Regions from separate parts of the Homo sapiens genome. Here all the other regions are linked to region 1. The links come from fine-mapping of genetic effects on gene expression. A gene starts in region 1. Each other region holds a variant in brackets. All regions are shown on one strand. Distances are from middle to middle.

Region 1 (6,397 bases):
ATGGAGTAATTGAATTTTAAACTCTGGGCATATACTGAACCTGTGTACTACTTTGTTTCATTTGTGAGCTCAATTATAGAAAAACCAAAGTTGTTCACAAGGGAATCTTTCACAAACTATCTCTTTATTTGCTCTTTCTCTATTTAGGAGCAGATGGAAAAGTTGAAGCAAAAGGCATCAAAGGTGATCAAGGCTCAAGAGGATCCCCAGGAAAACATGGCCCCAAGGGGCTTGCAGGGCCCATGGGAGAGAAAGGCCTCCGAGGAGAGACTGGGCCTCAGGGGCAGAAGGGGAATAAGGGTGACGTGGGTCCCACTGGTCCTGAGGGGCCAAGGGGCAACATTGGGCCTTTGGGCCCAACTGGTTTACCGGGCCCCATGGGCCCTATTGGAAAGCCTGGTCCCAAGGGAGAAGCTGGACCCACGGGGCCCCAGGGTGAGCCAGGAGTCCGGGGAATAAGAGGCTGGAAAGGAGATCGAGGAGAGAAAGGGAAAATCGGTGAGACTCTAGTCTTGCCAAAAAGTGCTTTCACTGTGGGGCTCACGGTGCTGAGCAAGTTTCCTTCTTCAGATGTGCCCATTAAATTTGATAAGATCCTGTATAATGAATTCAACCATTATGATACAGCAGTGGGGAAATTCACGTGCCACATTGCTGGGGTCTATTACTTCACCTACCACATCACTGTTTTCTCCAGGAATGTTCAGGTGTCTTTGGTCAAAAACGGAGTAAAAATACTGCACACCAGAGATGCTTACGTGAGCTCTGAGGACCAGGCCTCTGGCAGCATTGTCCTGCAGCTGAAGCTCGGGGATGAGATGTGGCTGCAGGTGACAGGAGGAGAGAGGTTCAATGGCTTGTTTGCTGATGAGGACGATGACACAACTTTCACAGGGTTCCTTCTGTTCAGCAGCCAGTGACAGAGGAGAGTTTATAAATCTGCCAGACCATCCATCAGAATCAGCTTGGGATGAACTTATTCAGATGGTTTTACTTTATTAATTCCTCCAATTATTACAATAATCATAAAAAGGTGAAAACGGAAAAGTTATTCCCAAAACTGATTCTATGTAACTTACTATTTTTCCAGGAGTAAATATTTAAAATAGCTGCATGGTTTATTCTAATTTATTTCACATTTCTTATTCCTATTATCTGAAGAATCCTTTGTCTGTGCATTTCTTGTGGGAAGAGTGTTTTGATATCATTTTAGTGCTCTGAGGAGTCATATGAAGATGTATCCCTCATCTGTGTTTCTGAGGACATTAAGGGGAAATTAGAGGGAAATGTTTATTCCATTTAGTACTAGTAACAGCTTTAAGCTGGTGATGCTGTCACACTCCAGAAAGCTGTAGACACTGCTCATTTTGTCTTTTTTTAAAAAATGTATTTTTAAGTTCTGGAATACATATGCAGAACGTGCAGGTTTGTTACATAAAAATGTGCTGTGGTGGTTTGCTGCATCTGTCAACCCATCACCTATGCAGGTATTAAGCCCTGCATGCATTAGCTATTTGTCCTGGTGCTTTCCCTCCCATTTTGCTCATTTTCTAACCTAGGTTTTAATCACCATTCTATCCAACAAATCATTGTTTGATCATTATTTGCCAGACATGAATCTCTACTTGTTTTCTAGGATCGCCCTAATAAAGTACACAAACTGGGAGTCTTTAAACAACAGAAACGGACTTTCTCACAGTTCTGTAGGCTGGAAGTTTGAGATCACCGTAGCAGCAGGGCCATCCTCCCTCCAAAGGGGATACAGGAGGATGCAGCCTTGCTGCTTCCAGCTTCTGGCAGCTGGTGGCAGCATCACTCCAGTCCCCGCCTCCATCTTCAGGTGGCTGTCCTCCTCCTGTATCAGCCAAATTTTCCTCTTCTTACAAGAACAGCTTCCCTAATCTAGTATGACCCATCTTAATCATAATTGCAAACTCCATATTTTCAAATAAGGTCACATGTACAGGCACCGAGGGTTAGGACTTCAGCATCTATTTTGGGAGACACAGTTCAACCCAATCTGCCCTCTGGTTCCCAAAATTGATTTCCTTCTCATGTGCAAAATACATTTTCGCACCATGTCAACATTACCAAAAGTCTTAACACTTTCCGCATCAACTCCTCTCACCATCTACATCATTTAAATAAGCTACAGAGGAGACTTACTGTGTGATTCATCGTGTGGCAAAATGTCTCTCCATCTGTGATCCTGTGAAGCGAGACGAGTTAATCCACTTCTAAAAGACCGGGGGTTGGAGGGGGAGACAGGCATAGGGTAGACAATCCATTCCAAAAGAGAGAAAGGGGAAGGAAAAAAGGGTTCACGGGTCCCAGGCAATTCTGAAACCCTGGAGGGAAAATCCCATTAGACTTCTTTCACTATTTCCCATCTAAAATTTTTAACTGAGCTATGCAAGAGTAAAAAGTTACCGGACAGAGACACCAAACAGAGAAGTGCAGGATAAATTTACCAAGAGAGTAGGTTAAAAGGGAAACTTCTCCTTCAGGCCTATGGTGGGCATTTCTTGTTTACTCAAGTACCTGCCGTCTCTCAAAGAATATCTAATGTCCACTGGAATTCGAATATGTCATGATTTTACTCGCGCCCACCCCTAGTCAACTTGGGAGGGAAGCGCAACCCTAGCCTTTTCTTACTCTGGACACAGGGGGCGGTAAACCGGGAGGGCGGCCGAGAAGGCGAGGGGGAGCGACGCTCTTGCTCTCTGGACGACAACGTGCCCACGTCCTGAGGCCGCGCCCAGACCCGGAAGCGGGGCCGTCACGTGGGGCGGCGTGGGCTGCTGCCTTGGAAACGCGGAGCGCGCGCTCCCAGCGAAAGCAGCAGGGCAGGGATCTGCGTTGGAGGAAGGGACTGCTCTGGTGCTAGAATGCTGTGCGTCGGAAGGCTGGGCGGCTTGGGAGCCAGAGCAGCAGCTCTGCCGCCCCGCCGGGCGGGCCGGGGAAGCCTCGAAGCCGGGATCCGGGCCCGAAGGGTCAGCACCAGCTGGTCTCCCGTGGGCGCCGCCTTCAATGTCAAGCCCCAGGGCAGCCGCTTGGACCTGTTCGGCGAGCGCCGGGTGAGCGGCGCAGGAGGAGCTCCCCTCAGTCCCCGAGCTAAGCCGACCCCTGCTCCGCGCGGCCAGCAACAATCAGGGCGAGATTGTTTGGGCCTGGGAGGAGGCGAGCAGCGAACCCACCTTTTACAGTGGCGTCTTGTGTGCGCTCTCGATGAGGGCAAGGTCACCTCTGCTTTGAGGGGCCGGGTTTAGTGGTCTCCTACCCAGAGTGTCGGGTCCGGGAACTGCTTCTGCATGAGCCCCTTGCTCCACGTGAATCTGAATAGTTCGTTCTGGCAGTGGCGGTGAATTCGTCCTGCCAGGACCCGCCCTCTGCATACACTCAGGCGCACCCCTGCTAAAGCCCTTTAGCTCCAGCGCTACAGTCCTGCCTTAAGAGGCCTATCCCTGTGCGTTCACAGGCGGCATCACATGGTCTTTTTGCAAGGACACGGCTGCCTGCAGTCGAGTAATGGTAATTTCATTAATACCTGAAATTCCATCATCTATTAATTAATTTATTTCAAAGCTTTGGGCTTTCTTGTTTTAAAACACAAAACTCTGTTGAGACGAGTCTCACTTCCCATAGTGCCATGGAATTGGTCACTTTGATTTCTTACCCCAGGAAGTCACTAGCCTGCGTTGTCTAGTGAAAGGTGAGAGGAAGGCAAGGTTGGAAAGGACTTACCTGATGCCTGTTCTACTTGGAGTTTGTACATTTTGTCCGTTTTAGGTTAAGGATTACTTTTATTTTTGCCTTTTAAAATTTCGTTATACTGTATTGCCTTATAAAGACAAGTCTAGGGTATTGTTGCACTGAGCTAAAGTGTGTGATTCTTGTTTTATCTCCATTATCAGTTTTGTCTATTTAAAAATTATTTTGTGTGAAATTTGCTACACCACCTTCCTTAAGGGTATGTAGTGTTGGTATTAACATAGTTGGTGTGAAGAGACCTACTTGTAGGCGCTGAGCAGAAAGACGTGAGGGGAAGCCTGATTTTGGGTGGATGAGATATAACTAATTTTAGCTTTTATTTTTCCCTTTTTGTATCATGATATTCGGCACTGATAGCAGATTTTCAAATTTTAGAATTGATTTTTGCCTTGAAAAAAAAAAAGCCTTATTCAGTTTTTTAGCATTATGGTCACTGGTAATCCGATAGTTAGAATTCCCGAGAGCAATATGGGCAGGTTGTACTGGGAAGTGGAAGTAGTCTGTGCTTGAATCAAATTAAATCAGTATAAAGATGACATTTGTTTTTGGTCCTGATTTTCCTTTGTCTCCCACTGACTTTCTTTTATTTTATTTTTTATCTTGTAATATATTTTGAAGAGAGATTACTAGCTTAACTTCATCCATCCCTTCTTGTAGAAACAGTAGGGCTTGTCAGGCCTGAAGGTTTACCTGTTCGTATTTCTGAAAATCTATGCGTTAAGCACCTACAAAGTGAATTAACAAAGCCTAGCATCTGCTCCGGTCACTTGTTTCTTTCATTGAGTTCCCCCATGTGTTAGACATTCTATTGGATAGCTGGTTAAAGAAATGAAGGGCAGGGCTCTTGGGTCTGGAAGCTCACCTTTTCAGGAGAGAAGACTTTCAAACAGATAAATTGTAATAGAGAAGTATGGAAAAGTGTGGGCTTTACAGATGTACAGAGCGGGTTCGAGTTCTGTCTTTCCCAATATTAATTTGTGACCTCAAACAAGTTTTTTCTAACGTCTTAAAGCATGTGGCCTGATCTGTAAAAGAATGATACTCTGTTCTGTAGGATTGTGTGATTTAAATGAGAACCTATGTAAAGTAGCAGGCACACTTCATGGTATGCAGTAGGTGCATATTAAATGCTTTTTCCCCCTGCCTTCCTGAGTGTGCTAACAAGTGTGATTGAATAGGTAACAAGAGAATGGTCATTACCATTAGATCAGTGATTTTTGTTTTTATCAAGATATTGAAATGTCTTTGTAACGTATAAAATTTGCTCCCAGTTTCAGCCTATGATTTTAATATGTTCATTACATTTTTCTAAAATATCTATTGCTTCATAGTCAACTCATCCTCCCTATTTGATAGTTATAGAATAATTGGTACTATGTACTGAGATCTCACCTTGTCAGCTGCTGCTGTTAGTACTTTACATATACTTATTACCTGTATCCATGCTGTAAGGTATGTATCGTCATTCCCATTGTACATGATGAAAAAAATATTTCTCCTAGGAGGAGAAATAACATGACCAGGGTTATAAGCTAATAATAATTATGGCTAACATCTATAAATGCTCTGTGCCAAACACTGCTTTATGTATATATATATATATATTTACATATATGATCTCATTTAATCTTTGCGGCCACTCTTAGGTTCTGTAGAAGTGACAGCTGGATTTTGAACCCATACCATTGTTGTTGTTGTTTTTTCCGGAAAATAATTAAAAATTGAAGAAAAATTATGTTCTGAAAACATTTTTAGTGTAATTTATGTGGAGTGATATGGGGAGTATGATAGTGGTATCTGTGATCACAGGTATAACATGATACACCAATGAAAGTCAAGATCTCCTTTGTGATAAAAGTAATTTTAGTAAATATAAAAAAAGCACAATTTTGAATTTTGGTTATAAATCAGACGTATTCTTTGGTTCTAAGGGTCTTTTTGGAGTTCCTGAGCTGAGTGCCCCAGAAGGATTTCATATTGCACAAGAAAAAGCCTTGAGAAAGACAGAATTGCTTGTGGACCGTGCATGTTCCACCCCACCTGGGCCCCAGACCGTGCTGATCTTCGATGAGCTCTCGGATTCCTTATGCAGAGTGGCCGACTTGGTAAGGTGCTTTACCTCAGACTTGAAGCTACCTCTCTTTCAACTTGTTAAAATTTAAGTGAAATTTATCCTTTGTTGTTTACTATTAATATTAGATTATAAAGTTAAAAATGTCTGAAACTGAGATCCATTGGGTATAATTTTTTATGATGAAATATGTCATTAGGAATGGGAAAATATTATAGGAAAAGGTGATATTTAGAACTTGTACTTTAATACGTATGTTTAATAAAATATACATGTAATATATAATGAATGAATACTAATATAGCAAATATTTGCTATATTTGGGTAATATATATTTACATATATATTCATTTGACAGAGATTCTTCATTTATGAAAGTGTCTCCCAAAATTCTAAGAACACTTTATGTGTACATTTACAACAAAATTCCCCTTTTTCTTTTTTTTTTTTTTTTAATAGAGACAGGGTCTCCCTGTGTTGCCCGGGCTGATCTTGAACTCCTAGCCCCAAGTGAACCTCCTGCCTCGGCCTCCCAAAGTGCTGGGATTATAAGTG
Region 2 (6,397 bases), 86 kb after region 1:
GGATTACAGGCGTGAGCCACCGCGCCTGGCCTTCCGTCTACATATATTTTGGCAAAATTCCAGTTTTGTGTCACATATTTGATTTGCTGCCATTGTACATAAAGAGTATCTTATGGGTATGGTTCAAAATTCTTTAATATTCTTATTTATGAAAAGGTTGAGAGCATTCCTTTTAATCTTTAGCATGGTCTTAAATGTGGTATGAAATACATTTCAAACCATGTAAGTTTATTTTTGTGACTGTTTTCAACTGTGATTGGTAACTGTTGTTCTGGTGCACTTATAGCATCTTTGGTCAACCACATCTTGATGTGAGGATGGACGACCAAAACTAAGTAGATGTTTTTATCTATCTAGGTCTTTTATGCCACTCTGGATCAAATCTACCATGGGAAGCATCCCCTGAGGAATTCAACCACAGACATTCTCAAGGAAACACAAGAGAAATTCTATGGCCTACCATATGTTCCAAATACTGTGAGTCCAGCATTTGGCTTCTGTTTTGTGTATTGAGTGGTTCTGCTATTACTTCTGTAGCTTGTGATTATCTTCCCCTTTGGAGAACTTGAAATCCCTACATTTATGTTGAGGCTTCACATGGCTCAAATGCTGGAAATTGCCTGGTTCATTTAATATTTCCAACTACCCATTTATATGTTCTTATTTTCCTCCCTCTAACAGTGTTTTTGTACCTTTTTGGAAATGTGGGGGTTAAAAAGGCCATTGGAGTTGGTCTATATTCTTCTTTTTAGTTATTTTTCTACAATGTGAAAAATAGTGATGTAAGATGAATGTGATTACCAGTCCTGAATCATTTTCATTGCAAAGAGAATTAACATGTATTGAGTATCTTACATTGTACCAGGAATTATAATAGATGCTTTACATATCTTATCTTGTTGAGTACCATGTCAGGAGAGAGAGCAGGAGTAATGTTACCATTTATTGGATTCTAGGCGCCAGACTCTATCTAATTCCTTTGGGAAAAGATCTCTAATTTAGCTCTCAAAATAACCTTATAAATTAAATTATATCCTTGTATTTGGGGCTCATTTGGAGGCACAGACACATTATATGTCCTGTCTGAGATCATCTAGGTAGTTAAGTGATTGTATGGGGGTTCAAAACAAACAGGCTTTTTTCATCACTCAAAGGCTCGTGTAAGGAGCAGTTGAGCACCGTGACTCCTAGTGCAATTAACAGTGTGATTCTTGGTGCAGTTAGCAATGTGACTGACTTAATGTTACCCAGGCCTTTCTCAGCTGCAAGTGATAGAAACGTGGTTCACACGGACTTAAACAGAAAAGGGAATTTATTGAGTCTTGTAACTGAAAGGTGCAGGGGTATAGGGGTGTTTCAAGTAAGTTGGATTTAGGTCTCCCACAATGTCGTTAGAAATGTTTCTCTCTCTTTCTGCCTCTCAGCTCGGTGTTTTTCTGGGTTCCTTTCATTCTCTGGCAATCCCCCCAGACTGAATGGTTTGATAACTACCGGTAGGTTCAGGTCGATGTCCTTCTAGCCTAGTTGGTCTAACAGAAGGAGAGCTAACTTGAAAGTGTTTTGTAAACTATAAAAAGCAGAATAAATGTCAAGTGGTTTTATTTGCTCTAAGATTGGATAGCAGAATATGTTGTGCTAAGAGATTAAGTTAATCAATAAACTACAATTGTCCACTAAATCTTCAGGTCCTAATGCTCAAATATGCATGGGAAGAGATCGTATTTACCAGACAAGTGAAGCAACAGGATATTTTATCTTCATAATACCTCTTGTCATTAGTTTTCGATTGGCTTAGAACCTTAATTATCTGCTACAGGTATATAATGTCAGTCATACTAACTAATTTTTTAATCTTACATGTAATTTACTATTCTAATACTTTCTACTGCCAAGCTCTTGATTATCTGTGTTAGTGAAAATTTATAGTGATAAGAATAATCTAACTATTTATTCATGGAATAAATAATAACAATTGCCTAGATTTTACTAGCATTTTCCAGTTCACAGAGCATTGCCTGATTCACCTGCTTTTGGGCTTGTATGTTTTTGTTCTCATCTTATATTCTTCTTTGTGAATATGAGTTAAACTTCATGACCAGTAAGTAGTAAAGTCCTAGGAAGACTAACATTAGGAGAACTGGGATGCTTGCCAAAGCTACAAAACTTCAGTTTGACTGAGTTGCTTGCCTTCTGCCCTTTTTTATCGTAGGTCTAATAATAAAGTAATTATGTCTCTTTTTAAAAGAAAACTTCCTTACCATCCAGATTTCTTCTCTGTAATCATTTAACATACAAATATGAAGTATTAGTGGCAACCAAATTCTGAATCAACAATCCATAAATCACTTTTAATTTGAAAGGAAGGGTGATGCTAAGTCCGTGTGCCTTGTCCTAATTCCTTTTGAGAAAATAGAAAGATGTATCTCTTTACTGGGATTAGCTCCACAATTCACGTTCAGTAGCCATCACTTGCTCTTTGTGTAAATTGTTTTAAGAGGTCTTTAAAAGAAGCATAGCTATGTTTAGAGAAAAAAAGACATTATTTTAAGGCTTGCCTTTAAAAAAAAGTGTCTGAGAGTTTGTTTAGATTTGTACAGATAGCCTACTCTTCCTACTTAGAAACTTCTGCATTTCTTCATTTGTTTGTCAATGCATTCATCAAGCCTATAACATTCCCGACATCAAGTTGGTGGACTTGACCACCAACTTGAATTCAAATAAAGCTGTAGGAATTAAGACAGTCTAACACTGGTGTAGGGATGCACAGATATCAGTGAAACAGGAGCAAGAGCCCAACGGCAGACTCAGCAAATTAATAGACTCTCAAATATAGGTTGAGTGACACTGTAGATTATTGGATGAAGAAGGAACAATTTTTTAAAGTGGTGTTGTAGTGATTGATCTCTATATGGAAAAAAAAATGCAGCCCTGTATCACACTGCACACAAAAAATAGAGTTAAAGACCGAGATGTGAAAAGTAAAGCTTTAAATTTTAGAAGATAATACAAAAGAATTTTTTCTTTTTGATAGTGTTTTTGTTGTTGTTGTTGTTGTTGTTGTTTTGAGATGGAGTCTTGCTTTGACTCCTAGTCTGGAGTGCAGTGGCGCAGTATTGGCTCACTGCAACCTCTGCCTCCTGGGTTCAAGCAATTCTCCTTCCTCAGCCTCCTGAGTAGCTGGGATTACAGGTGTGCGCCACCACTCCTGGCTAACTTTTGTTTTTTTAGTAGAGACGGGGTTTCACCATGTTGGCCAGGCTGGTCTCGAACTCCCAACCTCAGATAATCCACCTGTCTTGGCCTCCCAAGGCTGAGGATTACAGGCATGAGCCACCGCGCCTGGCCATGATAGTGTTTTTTATACCCACTCTGAGTATCTT[A/G]TATTTTATACAGATGCTTCTCAACTTATGATGCGGTCAAGTCCCAATAACCCATTGTAAGTTGAAACTATCATAAGTCAAAAATACATTTAATACCCCTACACTGCTGAATGTCATAGCTTAGCCTAGCCTACCTTAAATGTGCTCAGAATGCTTATGTTAGCCTACAGTTGGGCAAACTCATCTAACACAAAGTCTATTTCATAATAAAGTGTTGAATATCTCATGTAATTTATTGAATACTGCACTGAAAGTGAAAAACAAAATGGTTGTCAGGCACCCAAAGTACAGTTTCTATTGAATGCATATTGCTTTCACACCACTGTGGAGTTGAAAAATCTTAAAGTTAAAAAATCTTTAAGTTGGGGATCTTCTAGATACAATGGAAAGCCATTAAACATAAAGCAAAAGACTGACAAATTCAATGATATTTAAAGTTAAATACCACATAGCATAAAACTGACTTCCCCCCCTGCCTTCAGATGGAGTCTCACTCTATTGCTCAGGCTGGAGTGCAGTGGTGCAGTCTCGGCTCACTGCAACCTTTGCCTCCTGGGTTCAAGCGATTCTCTCACCTCAGCCTCCTGAGTAGCTGGGATTACAGGCACCTGCCACCATACCTGCCTAATTTTTTAGTGGAGACAGGGTTTCACCATGTTGGCCAGGCTGGTCTTGAACTCCTGACCTCAAATGATCTGCCTGCTTCCACCTCCCAAAGTGCTAGGATTACAGGTGTGAGCCACCATGCCCGGCCATTGGAAAAGGTTATATTTTTAAATTACTTTGAATAAACAAAAGACATGGATATGCAAAAAATGACGTAAAATAACTTAAATATTAATCAGGGAATGCACATTAAAACCACATTACAATACTCCTAAAATATTTTACTATCACTGGTTTGGCAAAAAATAAAACAATTGACAGTATCAGATGTTGGCAAGGATGTGGAGTCACAGGAACTCTTATACACTGCAGGTAGGAGAGCAAATTGGTATAACCACTTTGCAGAACAGATCTGTGAAATCTGAATATGGACTGCCCTATGACCCAGCAATTCAATTCCTAATATAACCTAGAAAAAAAAATGTTTTACTTTCTCTACCAGGTATACTTTTCTGTACCAGGCATGAAAAAATAGGAGGGTTTATAACAGCACTTGTTGTAAGTAGTTAAAAAAAAGGTGAGGGGGAGGATTCCGGGAAGAACCCAAGTGATTGTCATCAGAGAAATGGATAAACAATTTGTTCATACAGCTGGAATACTGTTCAGCTATGGAAATTGAGGGCCCCAGTTGATGAGCCTAACAAGCATAAGGTAAAGTGAAATAAATGAATACCAGATGAATCAAACTAGTACATTTATATAAAGTTCAGAGTGATGCAAAACTAAGCAGTACATTGTCAGATAAATACATATGTGATTAGACTATAAAGAAAAGTGAGGGAATTATAAGCACAGAATTCATAGGAGTGGATTCACAGGAGTCTTAGAAATATTTTCTTAAACTGATTGGTGGGTACATGGTTGATGACTTTGTCATTCTTTCTACTAATAGTAGACATATAGTCTTGGTAGATAGAAAACACTTCCAAGGATTAAAAGGTGATCTGGGCTACAAGGTATGGGGTATGCCAAGAATGGACCTTGGCAAAGCTGCTGGTGGCTCAAACTAGGACACTGACTGTGGGGAGTGGAAGATTGAAACAGACCTGAGAACAGTGCAGAAGGCATAATCAGTGCAGTGGGGGTGACTGGATATATGGGTTGGGATGATGAGCAAGATCCACGGGAATGGGACAACTGCAAGGCTTTCAACTTCCATATCGGATAGAAGATGACTTTGTAGCGCCTTCCCATGCGGGCCAAAGAGTGACAGTGTTCCCCCTGTAAACTTGTCTCCAGAAATTGTTTCTCTGAAATGAATCCTTTTATTCCCCCAAATTAAACAATGAGAAAAGGAAAATATAAGCAACGAAGAGTCTTTATAATGCTTATGGAGTTGATACAAATTTAGGTACATAATCTGGTACAAACTTTTAGACAGTGATTTTGCATATGTCTATATTAGCAATTCTTTAAGTGCATTAATAACTCATCTTGGGAATAAAGTGTCGCACTAGTTATCTTTGAGCAATACTGGTTTAAACAACATTGAGCTGGCTTCTCTACTGAGGAACCGCTTGGAGTCTGTAATATGCTAACAAACATTATGAGTCTCTATCCTCAAATGTATTAACCCTGGAAGTCTTCATGGATAATTTCTAGGCACTAGCTTTATGTAGGTCATACTTTGGAAAATTGCATTTACATGACTGTAACTATTTAATAGGGGCAGCTCCACAGATATTCCATATTAAATAATGATGCTTTCTTTACAAGTCAATAAATAGCCTTCTAGTGTCGGCAATTTATTGATATTTGTGTGCATGCTGAGTCACTCTGTATAAAATATAGGCTAATTTGTACTTACTTGCTATTCCATCTAACAGTAGTTTGATGCTGGAAATCCAAAATTTTCTACTCATTTGTGAATAGAGGGCAATAGTACAACATATACCAACAGGCTCACCTTCTGCTGTTACCACTTCTCTTCCATTTAGAGAACAGTGTTGTGTTGTTGTGTTTTTTATATTCATGACTGTCTCTTCTCAGAATATTTTCCCTAAGCGATTGTGTATCTCTCCTATTTTTAATTCAGGAAATAGAAAATGTAATATTTTTATTTTTGTAGCATTCTAGGTTTGTAATTTTACATTTTCACCCTCCTCTCTGACACAGTTGAGATACAGTCGTGTCCAGAAAGCTCTGGGATGAAACTTCTAGCCTTTGATCCTCTGACTCTGTTCTAATGTGTATTTTTCAAGTACAAAACATGAACAGCTGACTCTAGGTTTTGAAGATCTGTTAAGCAGTTGTATTTTAGTGTTTTGACCTAATTTGGTAGGCTTGTGGGTTTGGGTGGTGAGGCTGTGTCTCCAGCACAGCTGTTCTCAGAGTGACAGTGTTCTCTGAAT
Region 3 (6,397 bases), 27 kb after region 1:
TTGTTCCCCAAAAATTCCTATTGTTGTTTCATATGGCACATGAGCCAGTGTTTTCAGAATTCGTATACACAGGACTTGTTAAGTATTGACAGTGGCAAGAAACCTCATGGTTTGGGTTTAGGTTAACCACCATTATTTATTTCCTTAGTCTTTTATTTCACTCAAAAGGAGATAACTTAAATTGAAGAGAGGGCAGGAAACTTAAAACTGTATAAAAGATTATCTGGAAAATACAAACATAGTGTTTGTGGTGAACTAAAATACATATGAAAGCTCTGTACACATAAGTCAGTGATAAAAAGTGCTACATTCAGAAATACTTGCAAAACATTTCCTCTTGTGGGAAACGGTGATAATTCTACTGCACTGCCTTTATGGGTTTGTAAATTATGACAACTATGGCAGAAGTATTTTAATAAAAATACTTTAAAAATTCTATCAGAAGTTAATATTTATTTTTCTTATTTTGCTATTTTTTTCATATTTATCCTGAATAGATTATTCTACAGTTGTATATAACAATAAAATTGTTATCAAGAAAAACATTGATCTTAAAAAATTTATTTCAGGGAATTATACTTCTACACTGCACCTATTTTTATGAACAAAGCAGTCTAGATATCTCTTTAAAACTCTGAAAACGTCAGACATGTCTCAGAACTTTTTTTTCTTACACATATGAATAGATAGAAACACCTTGAAATTTTGTACTTTTTTCTTTAGCCTCCCATTAACTCTTTTTTTTTTTTTTTTTGAGATGGAGTCTCACTTTCTTGCCCAGGCTGGAGTACAGTGGCACAGTCTGGGCTCACTATAGTCTCTACCTCCTGGGTTCAAGCTATTCTCCTGCCTTAGCCTCCCAAGTAGCTGGGACTATAGGCATGCACCACCACGCCTGGCTAATTTTTGTATTTTTGGTAGAGACGGGGTTTCAGCCTGTTGGCCTTGCTGGTCTTGAACTCCTGACCTCAGGTGATCCACCCCCTGCCCTCAGCCTCCCAAAGTACTAGGATTACAGGCATGAGCCACCTGGTCCCATTAACTCTTTTAATTTTGGGATAGAATCTGACGCTGTGGATTATTAGTATGCCAATTTAATTTTTTTCTGATTAAAAGATCGTCATCACCTAGAAGCATTTACTATATGTTTGGTATATGTTGGTAGCTCTACTTCCCTTTGAAAATCATCACTTTAAGGGAATTGTGGGATATAGATTATGATCATCACATAATAATTTTAACAGATATGTTCATTTTATTTCACATAATTGAAGATATTTTCTTTTGGATTTCGTTTTAGAGACTGTCATGCAGTTCCTTGAAAAACTATCTGACAAACTTTCTGAAAGGTTAGTTTTTATTCTACTATTTAGTTTTTTGGTTATATGTTATTTAGTCTTTTTAAAGAAGACTTGATTTATAAAAAATTAGGAAGTGACCTAGAATATAAGTTTTGGCATATTGGACCAGACCTGTCTCACTATGAGACATACTTTAAAAGGCCATAGTTGTCTTCCTTATGTGCCATTCTTGAAAACATAAGCTGTCCCCTTTCATTAAACAATTGTTTTTAGAAATTCATCTTTCATTTGCACTTTAAAAATCTTTACCAAAATGTTTTTGAAACTATTTATTTTAACTTGTACCATGAATTTTATGACAAGTTCATAAAGTAGTATTTCTCTTCTTTTGGCCTAAATACAGGAGGCTCATGGATGTGGTGTCTTTTTAATTTTGTGTAGTATTTTAAGGATGTTCTATCTCAACATTTGTAATTTCAAGCTGAAGTGTTCTACTGCCTTTGGTGTGTCCGTTTGTTATAACAAGTTGAGTGTCCCTTATCTGAAATGCTTGGGACCACACATGTTTTGGATTTCATTTTTTGGGGGGAATTTGGAATATTTGCATATACATAATGAGATATCTTGGGGATGGGACCCAAGTCTAAACACGAAATTCATTTATGTTTCATATACACCTTATACACATAGCCTGAAGATAATTTTATACAGTGTTTTTAATAATTTTGTGCCTGAAACAAAGTTTTGGCTGCAACCTATCACATGACATCACATGTGGAATTTTCCACTTGTACCATCATGTCAGTGCTGAGAAAGTTTCAGATTTTCAGATTAGGGAGGCTCAACCTGTATTCCTGCCTCCCCTGCCCCTCCCCTGCTCAGTGCCTTCGATCATACACTTGCCCTTCACTGGCCCTCTTCTAGGCCTTAGTTGAGAGGCAGCACACCTTTAGGTACTAAGGATTCTAGGAAGAAGCAGTCACCGTTTGTAAAAAAGGATGATGTTTTCTCTTTTTCTCTTGTAATGCTGTCTAAAATTTTGTTTGCCTGTTGTGGCTACACCAACACATTGGATCTTGGCTCACATTTCTGTTTTGGACTATAAACTCATGCCTTAGAACTCATTCTTCTCTAGTTTGGATTATGTTTATAAATTCTAAAATTTTCTTTTAATGATCCTGGTGAACCACTGTGTCTTTGATACAATAAAGAAAGAGGGTTAGTTATGCACTTATTGAGGATTTATCCTGCTTTACTTAGTTAAGTGTTAGTAGTCTTTCTCTACATAGCTATAGATTTTAGAGCAAGCATAGCTTCATCATTTTACAGGTATATATAGGAATTAATTCCAATATACATGTCATATTCTACAAATATTAAATACCTATTTAATTATTGACCAGCTAGAGTTTTTCCAAAGGGGAAAAATGACTAGAAATCTTAAATGTAGCCAATGATAAAATTCCTTTCTAGGAGTTAATTTGTTAAGTCTCTTTTAAAGGTATAGCAAAAAGTAGTGATTTAAAGTTAGTGATTAATGCTTTGCATATTTGTAATGACATTGC[T/A]AGTTTTTCCAAGCTTTAGTACTCTTGAGACATTTATCCACCATGATGCTTTTTAAGGTAGAAATCGCAGTAATATGCTGCTTTATATATTGTTATTTCTCATGACACTTAGGTAAAATTTGGATTAATAGTGATTTATGTGTGCACTACTAATTGTATCTAATCTTATGAATATTGGAATGTAACATAAGCAAACTAGTCCTTTCATAATGTAATTGTTAAAATTTTGTCCTAACAAGTAATGATAAACCTGTTTTATAGAACTCTGAAAGATTTTGAGATGATACGAGGGATGAAAATGAAACTGAATCCTCAAAATTCCGTAAGTATGTTGGAATATTTTTATTATAATATAGACAGTCTGTCAACTGAAATCAATATCTTTTGATTCAGGAACTTTCTTGTGATAGGCTACAGGTCCATTTAGTCTTGTTTCTGATCCTCGGTTTTGGTGAATAAAGATGTTGAAATATTTGATTCTTATGTCCCAAACTGATGTTGCCTGTACATACAGCATTTTTGTTGAGGAGTCGACATATTTTATGTATATACACTAACACAATGTGTATATATTCATGCAAAGACTGCTTTCATTCTGTGGAATGTTGGCTTCTCAGTTTGAAGCAGACTTTAAGGAGACTCAGTGGAGGCTTCATCTGGCAGGTGGCAATTTTAACCATCAGTGTTAATGTTGCAGTTCATTTGCTTATTTGTTAGCTAATTTATGGTGCCCAATTGAGTATTTGACTAACAAAGTATACCACATTCTAAAAACACTTAAGTGTTGTTTTCAATCATATGATTATATGATCTTCCTTATGTGATCCAAGAGTATAGACAAGTATTGTTATGGCCAGAATGCTGCCCAGGTGATTGGGGGAGTGCCCTGAAAAGTGTCGAGAGTCCAGATATTAGGACTCATTCCCATTTGGTTCTAGGGCACTACAGGATTGCCGGGGTTGTCTACACCATTCTTTTCCAAATGCTGTTATTAGTTCTTGACTTAGTTGCTGCTGCCAGAGCCATAGTCATAAGGAAGATTTAGGGAAATGGGCCTTGCAGATTTACAAACTGTTTACTAGCTTCCCAGATACAGCCACTAGGAAACAGATTAATCCCATTAAACTCAGCGATGTGTAGAGTAGCATGTCAGTCTGTTAATTTATGGAAGGAGCTGTGTCTAGCAAAGTAACTACTGTTAGTCATCTGCACAGTCATCTGCACACCTTGACCTGGTAGGTAGGCTTATTTGGGAAACCAGATAATAGGTAAGAATTTAGTTTGGTGACTATAGAAACAGAAAAATAAAAAACAAAATGTGTTGCCAAAAGCTAATTCAGTAAAAGTGAATATGACTTTAAACTGTTATCTGTAGATATTTGTATATAGCTTATGGATACAATTATTCTGCAGATATTTGTGAAATGCCCAATCTCCTCATGAAGTCCCTGCTTTGGTGAATGGTGCCACCATTCACCCTGCTGCTCTGGTCAGGACCTATACTTAATCCAGACCAGTGGTTCTCAAAGTGTGGTTCCTGGACCAGAAGCAGTAGCATCACATGGGAGCCTGTTAGAAATGCAAATTCTTGAGCCCCACCTCAGACCCACTGAATCAAAAACTGGGGTGAGCTCCACAATCTGTGTTTCAACAAGCACCCCAGGCACTGCACACTCCCCTCCCCCATAATCATTTGTTAGGTCCTGCAGATTCTCCCTCCCTGTGAACTCTTGTGTCTTCTCCTGTGCCCATTGCCATAGCCTGGGCTATGATCCCAATCATTATTCTCACCCAGATGGTAACTGGGATTGCCTAACTGGTTTCTAGCCTTTTGTTTTTGCTCCACTCGAAGCCGTCTTGGATTCAGACAGTTTAGCCATGTATTTAGCCCAGTGTTAGGCATAGAATTGGTTGTCAACACTTATTTGAACTATGAATGAATAATGAATGAATGAATTGCCACCAGAGGGATTTGTCTAAAAAGCAGATCTGATCTTGTCACTCTGTTGTTTAAAATTATTCAGTAGCTCCTGGTTATTCTCCAGTTTCCCTTCCTACTACCCTGCTGCTCCCGCCAAGCCCTCATGATTTGGCCCTTGCCTCCTTCTCTAGCTTCATCTTCTGCTGCCCCTCCAAGCCGAGGCTGTGTTCTTTGCTCTCTCCTAATACCTGTGTGATGCTCATGTGATCTCTATTCACTTAGTTTTGCTTTCTTTCCTTGCTTTGCTTTCTTTGATTCTTTAATTTGAATTAATATTTACGTGCCGGCCACATAAATATGGCATGGTGAGCAGCTTCCAGTCATTTACAAACACCACCTACAGGAATGCCTTTCTCCCTTTCTCATCTGGATTAACTGCTTCTATCATAAAACTCAATTCAGGCTTTGCCTTCTTGAGAACATTTCCTAACCTTCCGCTGTGATTTAAATACTCTTCTTGTGGGCTGTGTTTTACATGGCACAATGTAGACATGACATACTGTCCTCTGATTGTTGAGTCACTTGCCCTTCTACTGCCTAGGCTATCATCCTCTTGTTTTTGTCTGATTACAGCCTGCACTCTGTCTGCATCTAGCAGATAGCAAATAATCATCTGTTAGAGAAAATGTGTGCCAGGACCAGAACACTGTGGGGCTAGGGTTCCATGGACGCAGTCCCTGCCCTTCAGGCACTCATGAGGAGAAAGAAAATAAGCCTACAAGTATCTTAGGTTGTCATGCATCCCATGATATAAGTATTACCATGGAATATGGGAAATAACACCTTGTTATTGGAGGAGATTATGCCTAAACTGAAATGTTAAAGGATAATGGTAATAAGGAGAGTAGCCAACATTTGTTGAGCCCTTACTCAATGCCAGATATTCTACTTAATAGTTTAAGTACATTCAGCAGTCTTCTTTGGGAGGTACTGTTGATTCTTTCAACAAATATTTACTGAGTGACTACCCTGGGCCAGGTACTGTTCAGGGGACAGGAATGTAATAGGGAAGGATGCAAACAAAGTCCCTGTCATCATGCAGTTTATAGTCTGGTATGGATTGGAAACTTGAGCCCAGGCAGTCTGTCTTCACAGCCTGGTCTCTTAACCACTCTTTTGTCCACCTGGACACCTAGAAGGAAGGACAGTCATTCAAGTATTCAAGCTTTCCCTTCTTTCAGTATTATGTGCCAATCATCAAAAGCAACTAGTACTATAGTACTTCTTTATGACATATTTTCTTTGCCAAGATTAGAGTTAATTCTGCCTTGGTTACATTTTAAATTGCTGCTTTCATTTTTGATATCTACCCAAAGCTTCTTGCTTAGATTTAGAAAGAACCTTAATCCTACCTTTAGTACACTCATCTTACCTACAGTGTGTTTTATGGATTAATACATGGGTTACATTTTGGGAAAAATTTCATTATGGCTAATATAATTCGTTAATGTTTACTTTTGTTAGATACCACTTCAGAATGACATTTGTTTGTCTTTTCCCCAGATTCTGGGGTAGGTCTTAGTTATACTTCACTATCTCTTGATTACAGG

Evidence for each region. PIP is the estimated chance that this variant, and not a neighbour inherited with it, causes the effect. A credible set is the group of variants that fine-mapping cannot tell apart.
Region 2: its variant is the best candidate, but not a certain one, in a credible set for the expression of MIPEP in pancreas (GTEx, PIP 0.58).
Region 3: its variant is the best candidate, but not a certain one, in a credible set for the expression of MIPEP in stomach (GTEx, PIP 0.67).

The regions. Positions count from the first base shown.
Region 1 is chr13:23,885,812-23,892,208 of GRCh38, reverse strand. It overlaps MIPEP (mitochondrial intermediate peptidase), which reads left to right and starts at 2,809. Exons shown (of 19, transcript NM_005932.4): 1 at 2,809-3,077; 2 at 5,703-5,876. The coding sequence starts at 2,889. C1QTNF9B (C1q and TNF related 9B) reads left to right here. Exons shown (of 5, transcript NM_001007537.3): 5 at 148-1,110. The coding sequence ends at 920. It overlaps PCOTH (prostate and testis expressed opposite C1QTNF9B and MIPEP), which reads right to left and starts at 3,341. Exons shown (of 4, transcript NR_172510.1): 1 at 3,198-3,341; 2 at 2,167-2,209; 3 at 678-824; 4 at 106-596. RefSeq lists enhancers at 2,410-2,469, 2,529-3,029.
Region 2 is chr13:23,800,030-23,806,426 of GRCh38, reverse strand. MIPEP (mitochondrial intermediate peptidase) reads left to right here. Exons shown (of 19, transcript NM_005932.4): 16 at 358-477. Among named protein-coding and RNA genes, the nearest start is that of PCOTH, 86 kb to the left of the region's middle. The variant A/G (reference allele first, on the strand shown) is at 3,381.
Region 3 is chr13:23,859,093-23,865,489 of GRCh38, reverse strand. It overlaps MIPEP (mitochondrial intermediate peptidase), which reads left to right. Exons shown (of 19, transcript NM_005932.4): 8 at 1,301-1,349; 9 at 3,128-3,188. Among named protein-coding and RNA genes, the nearest start is that of PCOTH, 27 kb to the left of the region's middle. The variant T/A (reference allele first, on the strand shown) is at 2,867.